3 linked regions of the Homo sapiens genome follow. The protein of the gene in region 1 purifies or fractionates together with the protein of each later gene. This does not show direct contact. Each region holds a gene or a part of one and is shown on either strand. Other genes may lie near its edges. The genes, in order: SLC12A3, TMEM131L and SCFD1.

What was found.
Region 2: the proteins of SLC12A3 (region 1) and TMEM131L purify together in Homo sapiens (affinity purification with mass spectrometry; one large-scale study listed by BioGRID and IntAct). This does not show direct contact.
Region 3: the proteins of SLC12A3 (region 1) and SCFD1 purify together in Homo sapiens (affinity purification with mass spectrometry; one large-scale study listed by BioGRID and IntAct). This does not show direct contact.

The regions. Positions count from the first base shown.
Region 1 is NC_000016.10:56,910,207-56,913,278, forward strand, and holds part of SLC12A3 (solute carrier family 12 member 3), read left to right. Parts: intron 1-3,057; coding exon 3,058-3,072. UniProt on the Homo sapiens protein: Electroneutral sodium and chloride ion cotransporter, which acts as a key mediator of sodium and chloride reabsorption in kidney distal convoluted tubules.
Region 2 is NC_000004.12:153,581,235-153,584,967, forward strand, and holds part of TMEM131L (transmembrane protein 131-like isoform 1 precursor), read left to right. Parts: intron 1-172; coding exon 173-326; intron 327-1,955; coding exon 1,956-2,014; intron 2,015-2,329; coding exon 2,330-2,438; intron 2,439-3,600; coding exon 3,601-3,697; intron 3,698-3,733.
Region 3 is NC_000014.9:30,670,628-30,674,360, forward strand, and holds part of SCFD1 (sec1 family domain-containing protein 1), read left to right. Parts: intron 1-2,629; coding exon 2,630-2,720; intron 2,721-3,296; coding exon 3,297-3,370; intron 3,371-3,733. UniProt on the Homo sapiens protein: Plays a role in SNARE-pin assembly and Golgi-to-ER retrograde transport via its interaction with COG4. Involved in vesicular transport between the endoplasmic reticulum and the Golgi.

The sequences.
Region 1 (3,072 bases):
TCTGTCACCCAGGCTGGAGTGCAGTGGCAGGATCTCGGCTCACGGCAACCTCTTTGTTTTTTTTTGTTGTTGTTGTTTTTTCTCTTTCTGTAACCTGTGACTCAGGCCTCTTTGGGCATCTTTGGTCCTATAATTTTCTTTGTTTTGGTGGCGGGGTCTTACTCTGTCACCCAGGCTAGAGAGCAGTAGTGAGATCTCAGCTCACTGCAACCCCCACCTCCCGGGACTCAAACAATCCTCCTACCTCAGCCTCCCGAGTAGCTGGGACTACAGGCACATACCACCAGGCCTGGCTAGTTTTTTGTATTTTTTTATGGAGACAGGGTTTTACCATGTTGGCCCAGGCTGGTCTCCAACTCCTGAGCTCAAGCAATCCACCTGCCTTGGCCTCCCAAAGTGCTGGGATTACAGGCATGAGCCACTGTGCCTGGCCTCAAAACTCTATTATAATCACCCCCTCACTCCCACTTTAGAGATGAGGAAGCAGCTTCAGAGAAGTTAAGCAACTTGGCCAGGGTCTTGCAGACAGGAAGTGGGAATTGCATCTGGAGCCTGTGACTGTGGTTCTGATGCAGGGCTGTCTTTCACATCTAGGTTAGATCTGAAGTCGCCTTTCTTTGTGGCTAAGAGATGTAATTCTGAAAAAATGTTCCTTTGTTCTGGAACAGTTTTATTTCTGAAGATTAGTAGCTCAAGGCATGCACATCCTGTGAGCAGGAATAGAGCACGTCATTGACTGGTGTGGGGGCGGGGGTGATTTTCAAGACAGCTGTCTCTCGGACAGGTGGACAGGCTGTGTTGGGGGAGGGAACTCCATGCTGAAGCTTGAAAGTCTGACATAGGTGTGTTGGATGTTCCCCACCCCCATGGTGCAGGCACCATTTCTCTCGTGGCCTTTGAAGTTTCTGAATTCAGTCCCCGAAATCATGTCCTATTTCCTGGATGTTGTCCGCCTCTTGCATAACTGCTCAGTCAGGAGAGTTTGGGCTCAGTACTCCTATGTCCCTTTCTCCTGGAAAGTCACTAAATATTTGAACTCAGATGACTATAGCTTAATGAAATGGCCTTGGTCCAACCCACCTTCCCTAATTTTTGAGACCTTTTGTTTGTTTGTTTGTTTGTTTGTTTGTTTGTTTTGAGACAGAGTCTCACTCTGTTGCCCAGGCTGCAGTGCAGTGGCGCAATCATGCTCACTGCAGCCTCGACCTCCCAGGCTCAAACGATCCTCCCGCCTCAGCATCCTGAGGAGCTGGGACCACAGGCGTGTGCCATCATGCCCAGCTAATTTTTCTATTTTTTGTAAAGACAGGGTCTCACCATGTTGCCCAGGCTGGTCTCAAACTCCTGGGCTCAAGTGATCTGCCCACCTCGGCCTCCCAAAGTGCTGGGATTACAGGTGTGACCATGCCTGGCCCGGGACATTGCTTTTTAAAGGAGGGTAGGGCTTGTCCCAGGTGAAGCTTTGTGGATGGAACTTCCAAGTGTGACATAGCTGTTTAGTATCCCAGTTACCCTTCTCAGAGGAGGTTGGAGTTGCTGTGAGCAGAGGCTGCTGCGGAGGGAAGATGTCAAGACCTCGGTTCGAATTCCAGCTTTGCCGCCGCTGGCTTAGCTGTCGCGTGCTGGTCAGTACTAAGTGGTGATGACAGCTGCTGACCTTACAGAGCACTCACTGTGTGCCAGGCATTGTGCTGTGCCTGCGTGTGCTTTGCCTGTTTTAGCATCACAAACATCCTGCGAGGGAGGTTTTTGTGTTCTTGCTTTAGGGAAGAGAAACTCTGCAAAGGTCATCTGGCTGAGGAAGTGGCAAAGCCACGACTCGGACGCCAGAGACTGGCTCTGACCTCAGCGCTCCAGCATCCTCCTCCCGCCCCAGTTCTCCCACCTGTGAAGGAGCGCGGTGCTGCGGGCCCTGCCCATTCCCCAGGGGGATGTACTTGGGGAAAACAGACACTCAAGTGAGTCCCACGGAAGGTGCTGGTGCCCCCACTTCATGCGGCACCAGCTGGACCTGTGAGACACTGCTGGAGCCCACAGACCCTCCTGGAGCCCAGAGCTGGGCAGCTGTGGCCATCCCAATGCATTTTTGGAATTCTCCAGATAGTAGAAAAGTCACTTCCTGAAATAGTTGGAAGACATGGCTGGACAGCATTCCCAGGGCATCTTTTTATTCACGCAGCATTGCACAGTTAAGACAAGGGGCCTCCCCATAGGCAGCGGTGGAGTCTTGCTCCCAGGGCCTCCTGCACAGGGCAGGAGGCAGGACAAAGACGCTGAGCTGGACAATGAATGAACAGGAACATATCACATTGCTGTGGCCACAGGCTGGCACAGGGCTGGAGAGGCAAGCCTGGCATGAAGCGGGTGGCCTGATAGGGAAGGGTCGCCCACTTAACAAATATATACTGAGCCTGACTGTATCAGACTGTGTTCTAGGCACTGGGAAAAGGGGGGTGAATAAGGCAGATCTGGCCTCCTTGTGAGCGAACATTCTAATGTGGGGAGACAAGCACATAAATCAGAAGATGCTGTTGGGACTGTGGAGGGCTCTGAAGGCAGTAAAGTGGGGTGATGTGAGGAAGAGGCGTGGGCGGCCTGCCCTGGAGGAGTGATCAGGGAGGAGGTGGGTGCACTTGCCTGACTCAAAGGAAGTGACCAGGTGCAGAGCTGGGGCTGCTCCTTTCCTGGTGGGTGGGGAGAACGTCAAGTGCAAAGGTTGGAGGCAGGAGTGAGCTTGGCATTTTTTTAGGAATGGAAAGAAAGCCACAGGGCATCGGGGGTGAGCAAGGCGAGGGTGGGAGGAGGTGAGGTCGTGGGCTTGGCAAGGACTAGATCCCATAGGGCTTGTGGGCCATGGCTTTGTTTAGAAACGCTTCACGGCAGAAGGTCCATTCTGGGTCAGGTTTGTGCGGAAAGTGGGGAGGTCATTCTTAGGGTGGGTGGAAGGAGCTCTGAGGGACGGTAAACAGACTCGCTGTTCTGAAAACAAACTGGGAGCTGGGCGTGTGGAGCGGCCCCGTGGTAATCTCTCTTCTACCACTTTTTCATGCCTTGCAGCACTTTGCCCATAGG
Region 2 (3,733 bases), on another chromosome or scaffold:
CAGAGTGAGACTCCGTCTCAAAATAAAATAAAATAAAATAAAACACAAAACAGCATATTCTGTTCTCACACACGTCCCATTACGTTAAATGCTTCTCCTTTCCTCCATAGTTTGAAACCACAAAGTTGAGATGATTTTTTTTTTCCTTTTTTCCTCCTCCTTCCAACCATAGGGTTGTTATCTGGAATCTGATGATGTTTTGCGTCTACAAATGAGCATAATGGTAACAATGGAAAACTTTTCAAAAGAATTTGAAGAAAACACACAACATTTGTTAGATCATCTCTCTATTGTTTACGTAGCTACAGATGAATCTGAGACCTCAGGTAAGGTGGAATGTTTAAAAATTTTATTATATTTTCATCAGTCTGCATCATCATTCTATAGCATTTATGAACAGATTGTATCATAGCAAACCAAGACAAATAGCCTTTGCTTTAATTATTAAGTGATTGTAGTAGTAACTGGTTCTCAACCTACAACTGCTAAGAAGGCTGTATTATTTTGGGGAGAAGTGACAACTGCAAACTATTCTGAGTTTCCTTAGGAATAATTTTTCTTCATGTTTGGAGACAGTAAGGAAATTAAATGGGCATGACAGTTTAATATAAATATTTACAAAGTATTTGAAGTCTTGGGTTTCTTGTTCCACTTTTAATGATTTGCCTAAGCTCATTTAACCACATCATGCTGTTTTGTATTTTAAATAGCTAATAGGTTGCGGTTGTTCCTGGATGCTTGACAAGTTAGGTAGAATTTTAGTGTTCAGTTTTATGAATTTTATCTTTGGAAATGTGTGTCCTACTTATCAGAAATAAATGCATTCATCTGTTTAACTTCCTAAGAACTTTTTTCAGAGACACATTCTGTGATCCATGAAATTCCTAACGTAGAGTATACTAGTATCTTTTGGTTATCAAGACTTCTGAATGTGACTGTATATTTGTATTCATATTCAAGAAAGTATGGTTTTTATTCTTTGGGTTTTTTTGTTTGTTTTTTGGTTTTGTTTCTGTTTTTGTTTTTTTTAGACAGGATTTTGCTGTGTAGCCCAGGTGGGAGCACAGAGATGTGATCTCGGCTCACTGCAACCTCAGCCTCCTGGGCTCAAGCGATCCTGCCACCTTGGCCTCCCAAGTAGCTGGGACCACAGGCGCACACCACTATGCCTGGCTAATTTAAACCGTTTTTTTTTGTTGTTTTTTTTTTTTTTTTTTTTTTTTTTGTAGAGACAGGTTCTCCCTGTGTTGCTCAGGATGGTCTTGAACTCCTGGGCTCAAGCATTCCTCCCCGCTTGGCCTCCCAAAGTGCTGGGATTGCAAGCATGAGCCACCGTGCCCTGCTTTGGCAGTCTTAATTGGTTAAACAGCCTTTACCTTTCAGTCTTCAGAGCTGGCTGTGGTAGTGCTGGATCAGCAGGAGAGCTCTCCTGTCCTCAGTGCTTGGTGATTCTCATAGTGGCCAGTGAACATCTATGAGGGCAGATCCCTGACCCATGGGGACCACTTCTGTGGGTGAGGGCTAAAAGGAAGCCTGAAACCTGAGATCTCAGGATTTTCTTCTTTCCAAATGTGGTTATCCAAATGAGGAAATGAGGAGCTTTCTAATCAACAGGAGAACATAGCTTTATTTGAAGTCGTCCAGTTGGTTAGTTTCATTCAGAAGAGCATTGTGTGACCCTAAACTCAGAATTTTGCTCCTGGTAGTTCCTCATCATTTAGAGGGCTTAGGTTGGTAGGCATTTTTATGAGGATCTTTTTTCTTGTGATTAAAAAAGAAAAAAAAAAAGAAAACACCTCCTAGTTTTGATTTCAGTTTTGAGAAACAAGTTAACATTTTTTATAGAAATGTGTAATGTGGTATTTTAATGATTATATGAAGGTGTGAGAATGAGATGGCTCTGTTTTAATCTCTGATTAAATACTCTGCTTTAATACTCTGATTCTTTTGGACAGATGATTCAGCAGTAAATATGTATATATTACATTCAGGAAACAGCCTTATATGGATACAGGTAATTGTAAATGCTTACCTAAAGTAACTTTTAAAATTGCAAGTGTGCATTTAATTGTAGAATATGAGGGTTTTTCAGGAACAGAGACAGAAGCACTATCTTTATTCTTTTTTGCTTTAATTTAAGCCCATTTGCCCTTGCTTGAACCTCTGTTTGTATGAAGATTGTCAGCATCCCCTCCATATGGTTATGGCACAGATGCTGAGCAGTTGCTATGTATGGCTGGTCTGTGCTATTTATTCTAACGGTTCATTCAAACTGGATAAATACTCTCCCAGCTGAGAGTAGTCACATGGGACTTTTCTTTTATTTCAGGATATACGCCATTTCTCACAGAGAGATGCTCTGTCTCTGCAGTTTGAACCAGTACTACTACCTACTTCTACAACAAACTTTACAAAAATTGCTTCTTTTACCTGCAAAGGTACAGATTTTTAAACAGATTGTCATTTGACTTTTGTTATCTGGTTGTCATGATGGCAACTCTTTCTACAACTACAGATTAGGCATGGTTTCAAAAAAGTGAAGGGAATGCGTTTGATTTCAAGAAGTCCCAGCCTTAGTAGTTCTAAGATAGTATGATGTAGAAACTATTGTTGATGCCACTTTTATTCTGCCACATATGTAGAATTTTGAGTTTAAAGCTTAATATTCTGTGTTGATAACGATTAGGAAGGAAAGCACTGTTAGGTTTTTGACAGGAGTCTATGCAGGCTGTTTTTGAGGGAAAATTGGCAAATCTCTATGAAAATTTAAAATGCACATATTTACTCTTTGATCCTTAATTCTAGTTTTAAGAGTTTATCCTCCAGATATGTATGTATTCAAAACTGTACCTATAAGAAATGTGTGTTTGTTAGGACAGAACAGCTGATCATCTGTGTTCAGATGTGAGAGAGTGTTCAGAAACATGCATGGACAGCGATGCGAGCAGTGTGTGTACATTTAATTTTTTTTTAGAGGATATCTGTGTACTTATACATGCACAGAACACCTGGAAGGATGTTGCAGAAACTGCTAACAGCTGCCTCCTCCAAGATAATTGGGAGTCAGGGTGAAGAAAGGTAGATTTTATTTTCACATTTTTTTGTTAGTGTTTGAATTTTTAAAAACCATATATATAACTTTAAAAAAGTTGGTTATTAGCATCAGAGAGTTAAGAATTGAACACAAGCGACTCAATATTATAACCTAATCAAGGAGAGCTTAAAAGTATTATTTTGATCAATCAGCACTGCTTTCAAATGCAGCCCACTTTTTGCTGGTCAGCTCCCTTTTGCTCTTTAGGTTTTATTCCTTTCTTGCTCGTGCCTCCACACATTTTACTCTGCCAAGTGAGCTTCTTGTTTCACTTTTGTCATTTCTGGTAGAGAAGTTGGTTTTTAAAAGTATGGACTTCTGGATAATTGGCAACAAAGAAGATGACAGGAACATTTGAGAAAGTAGTTACCTTTTATGTCTGATTCACTATTTTAATGGAGACAGAAAAGTGAATAAAAATTTATAAATAAGACATATATCTTTTGTTCAGGCTTAATGAAAGAAAAGGTACTTAAGCTTCACATTTATTTCTTTATACCACAAAGCAGCTACATCATGTGACAGTGGAATTATAGAAGATGTGAAGAAAACAACACACACTCCAACACTAAAAGCATGCCTCTTCTCTTCTGTGGCTCAGGGGTAGGTTACTTCCACTTTCCCTGAAATCTTGTATGG
Region 3 (3,733 bases), on another chromosome or scaffold:
GATCATCCTATACAGATAGTCTTTTTCAATTTTGTTGCTGTCTCCACTGACTCTATAAGACCATCTCTGCCTTTCATTTAAATTGGCTTTTGTGATTTTGGGGGTGATTTTTTCCTTTTTGTTACATGTTGCCCTCATGTAAACCTTGTTTTAGATACTTGTGGAGAGAGTACCTAAGCCTAAAAGCCTAGAAATTTATTCAAAGTACATTAGAAATAATGAGTGATAAAACTGCATTAATTTGCCATGTGATTTACTGTGGGCAGATATACATATCCCATGTGATGCTATGCCCCCTTAAAGTTTAGGGTACTTCATGGGCTCAGTTACTGCTATAAAAGTTATCTAGTGATCATTATGGCTAGAGCCATCATTCTAAACAAACAAAAATATTATTCCTCAGAGAAAAAGAATACTGTTCATCAACAATTATGAAAATATGATTTTTAAAAAATATTTCAAAATGTGTGTGTGTCCTTGATATAGCTGTTCTTTTTGGGCTTATATTTATTGTTTAAAGAGAAGTCGAATATAGACTTGGTTCAACATGCTGGGTTTTTAATATGCTTTATCTTTTTTTTACTTACAACTTTTTTTTAAGCTGGAAAATCAAATCGCCATAACAAAGATTTGACTTTCTCTGCAGAGAAAAGTCACTGTCTTTCTCTTTCTCACTATGGCAGTTTTAGGTACTATTTTAATTAATTTTAATAAATTTGATTTTAAATAATACTCTTCCCTTTGGAATTCCATAATCTACGTTTCCCTCCAGAATGGTGAAGTACAAGAAATTACTTTTATTAGAGAGGCATTATTTATAGAGAATACAGAATATTTTGAAGTTGGCATTCCCTAATAGAGAAAAGCTTAAGAAAAAAATCTCTGTATTCAAATATGGAAATTTTGAATTTTTTTAGAACATATGTTTAAGAACAATTTAAGAGGTCAGTTGAATAGTAAGAATTTTAACCTCCTATTCATTAAGTAGGAATAGCTCTTTTGCTCTGCATCTTACATACAATAGTAACATGGGCACAAAGACACTTGGAGATAGCATAAACAAGTGACCTAAACCTCTCTGAGCTTCAGTTTCCTCATCAGTAAAATAGGGAGATAATAATTCTACCTATTGCCCTATTTCAGAAGGTTGTTGAGAAGATTGAGATAATGAATTTAAAGGAGTAATTTGCCCAAGTCATCCAGCTTTCGTTGGTAAAGCCAGGGATGAAACCCAGGTCTTGCAGACCATAAAGCACCCAGTCTTAACATTGAATAGTTAAGTTATGATAGTTACCTCAACAGATTCATCAGGATTAAATGAGGTTGCAGTGAGCCGAGATCACGCCATTGCACTCCAGCCTGGGCAACAAGAGCAAAACTCCATCTTAAAAAAAAAAAAAAGAAAGAAAAGATAAATTCTTAGCATGGTGTTTGATGTATAGTAAAATCACTTAATAAATGTGAGCAATTATTCTCTGTTAACTCTGAGACCTAAAGATATCAGAGATTTTGAGGATTATCCAGTTCAACCCACACATTTTACAGATAAAGCTAGGGCCCTGAGAGGGTAAGAGCTTGCCTGTAAAGGAAGTTTCCATTATAATTAGATGGAACAAGGGTTTCTGACTCCCCAGTGCAATGCTGAGGCCTCAGTGCTATTTTTTGCCAACATAGACTCAACTGGAGCTGGAGTAAATGCCTGTGCTTGTGAGGTAAAATTGGACTGTGTTCCTCAGAATCCTTTCTGAGCTCCTGTCTTTTCTGCTAGTCTCCATTGGATAAAATGTGCTTGTTATTAGAGAGGTATTTTCAGATGTCAGAGCTGAGGAAGGGGGGAAAGGTTTTTGTTCACTGTTAATGAGACATGACCTTTTCTTTCTTAAAGGAGAAAAGGCTTCTGGCCTCCCCCTAGGCTGTAGATGAAAAATACTCATTTTAAGAAACATTTAATGATCAACATGTATTCACCTAGAGTTTGTCAAGATTAGTACAGTGTTTTCTACCTGAGTGCTCATGATTGCAGATCACTTCTGCCTAAAGTCTATGTAAGTTACTGCTAAACCACAATGTCCTGGTAGAAGACATCAGGTATTAGGCCACCAAAACTGTGGCCCAAGTGCTATTTTTACCAGTAGTGTTCTGGGATATTATGAGTTCTGAGTTACAAGAATTTTTTCACAGTTACTTGCAGGTGATATTTTTAAATGCTGTCTTTGTAGTTGCATGGACCCTTTGACATGACGTGTTAATTTGGATGGGAATATTTAATTGATATTTGATATAACATGACTTGTCTTCCATTGATTTTCAGTCATGTAAATATTTTACTTTTTCTTCTAAAAACGTATAAGTGAAGAGAATGTATGATACTGTTAATGAAAAATAGAAATGAAATTTAAATTTTAGATGTATATTATATGCATTTTAAAGAAATAGTATTATATAGATATCAGAAAGATATGTAGTTGTATTTGTGCTGAATCTTTTCTGCCTTTGTTATATATAACATATATTCAAATCCAAATAAGTATATTTAAAATAATAAATGTTCATTGTATATATTTTAGAATTTACACAAAAATTGGTCTTTTAATGTCATCCTCATAGTTCTTGTGCAATACTGTTTTAGTCCATTCCCAGAAGTTGCAGAATCAGTTCAGCAAGAACTAGAATCTTACAGAGCACAGGAAGATGAGGTCAAACGACTTAAAAGCATTATGGTAAGATTCTATTTGCTTTCTAAGAATTATAGGAAAGAGGAGGATTATCTGTTAGATAAAGAGATTTGGGTTTTTTTCCTTATAAAAATTGAAGGCCATTTAATGCTTTTATAACAAAAATATTTTCAACTTGCGTAAGTGATCAAAAAGAAATCTAAATATTGAGAAGAGAAAAAATAATATATGATTTGAAAAAATATATAATGTAGCATCATTTTAGAGATGTATGTTCCAATGCTGCTCATTCTACCATACTTCGATGTAACTTCAGATTTCAGCTCTACTGTTTATTGCTGTGTGACCTATGGCACGTCTCTGGGCCTGTCTCCTTATCCAAAAATGCCAGCTGATCATTTAGACATCTAACCATTAGACTGGCGATTACTAGAACTTTTATGTAACATTAAAATATATATGCTTGCACCTCAGAGGAGGAGAATTACTATTCTAGGTGACTTAAAAATCTTACGGTATATCAATAATCTTAGGATATTTGCTCCAATCTTAGGATGTGTTGATTTTTATGCTTGTGCCTGGGATTTTTGAGTAGCTATTGAGACCTTTTTTCTTTACAAGGGACTAGAAGGGGAAGATGAAGGAGCCATAAGTATGCTTTCTGACAATACCGCTAAGCTAACATCAGCTGTTAGGTAAGTGAGCAGTATATCCTCTTTGAAGTCTTTCTGTTGATAGGATTTTTTTTTTATTTAACTAAAAAATTGTTAATGTTTTTAACTAGTAGGAAACTGTAGGCAATAGCAAATATAACTTTGAATTTAAAGAACTAAATTGTATTTAGCTAAATGTTTAAGCCGATTTTAGTTCCCTCTTAGATATAGGAGATTATTCATTCTTTCACCAGTTAGAACTGTGTAATAGGGGTAATTTTATGAGGAAAATACTATTAATGATAAAGTAGGGCAAGCGATTATTAATTTTATTATAGATACTGTTTTCTTAACTAAAAGTTAAACAGTTTTTTCTGTACTTTGAATGCCATTAAGGAGGGAGGA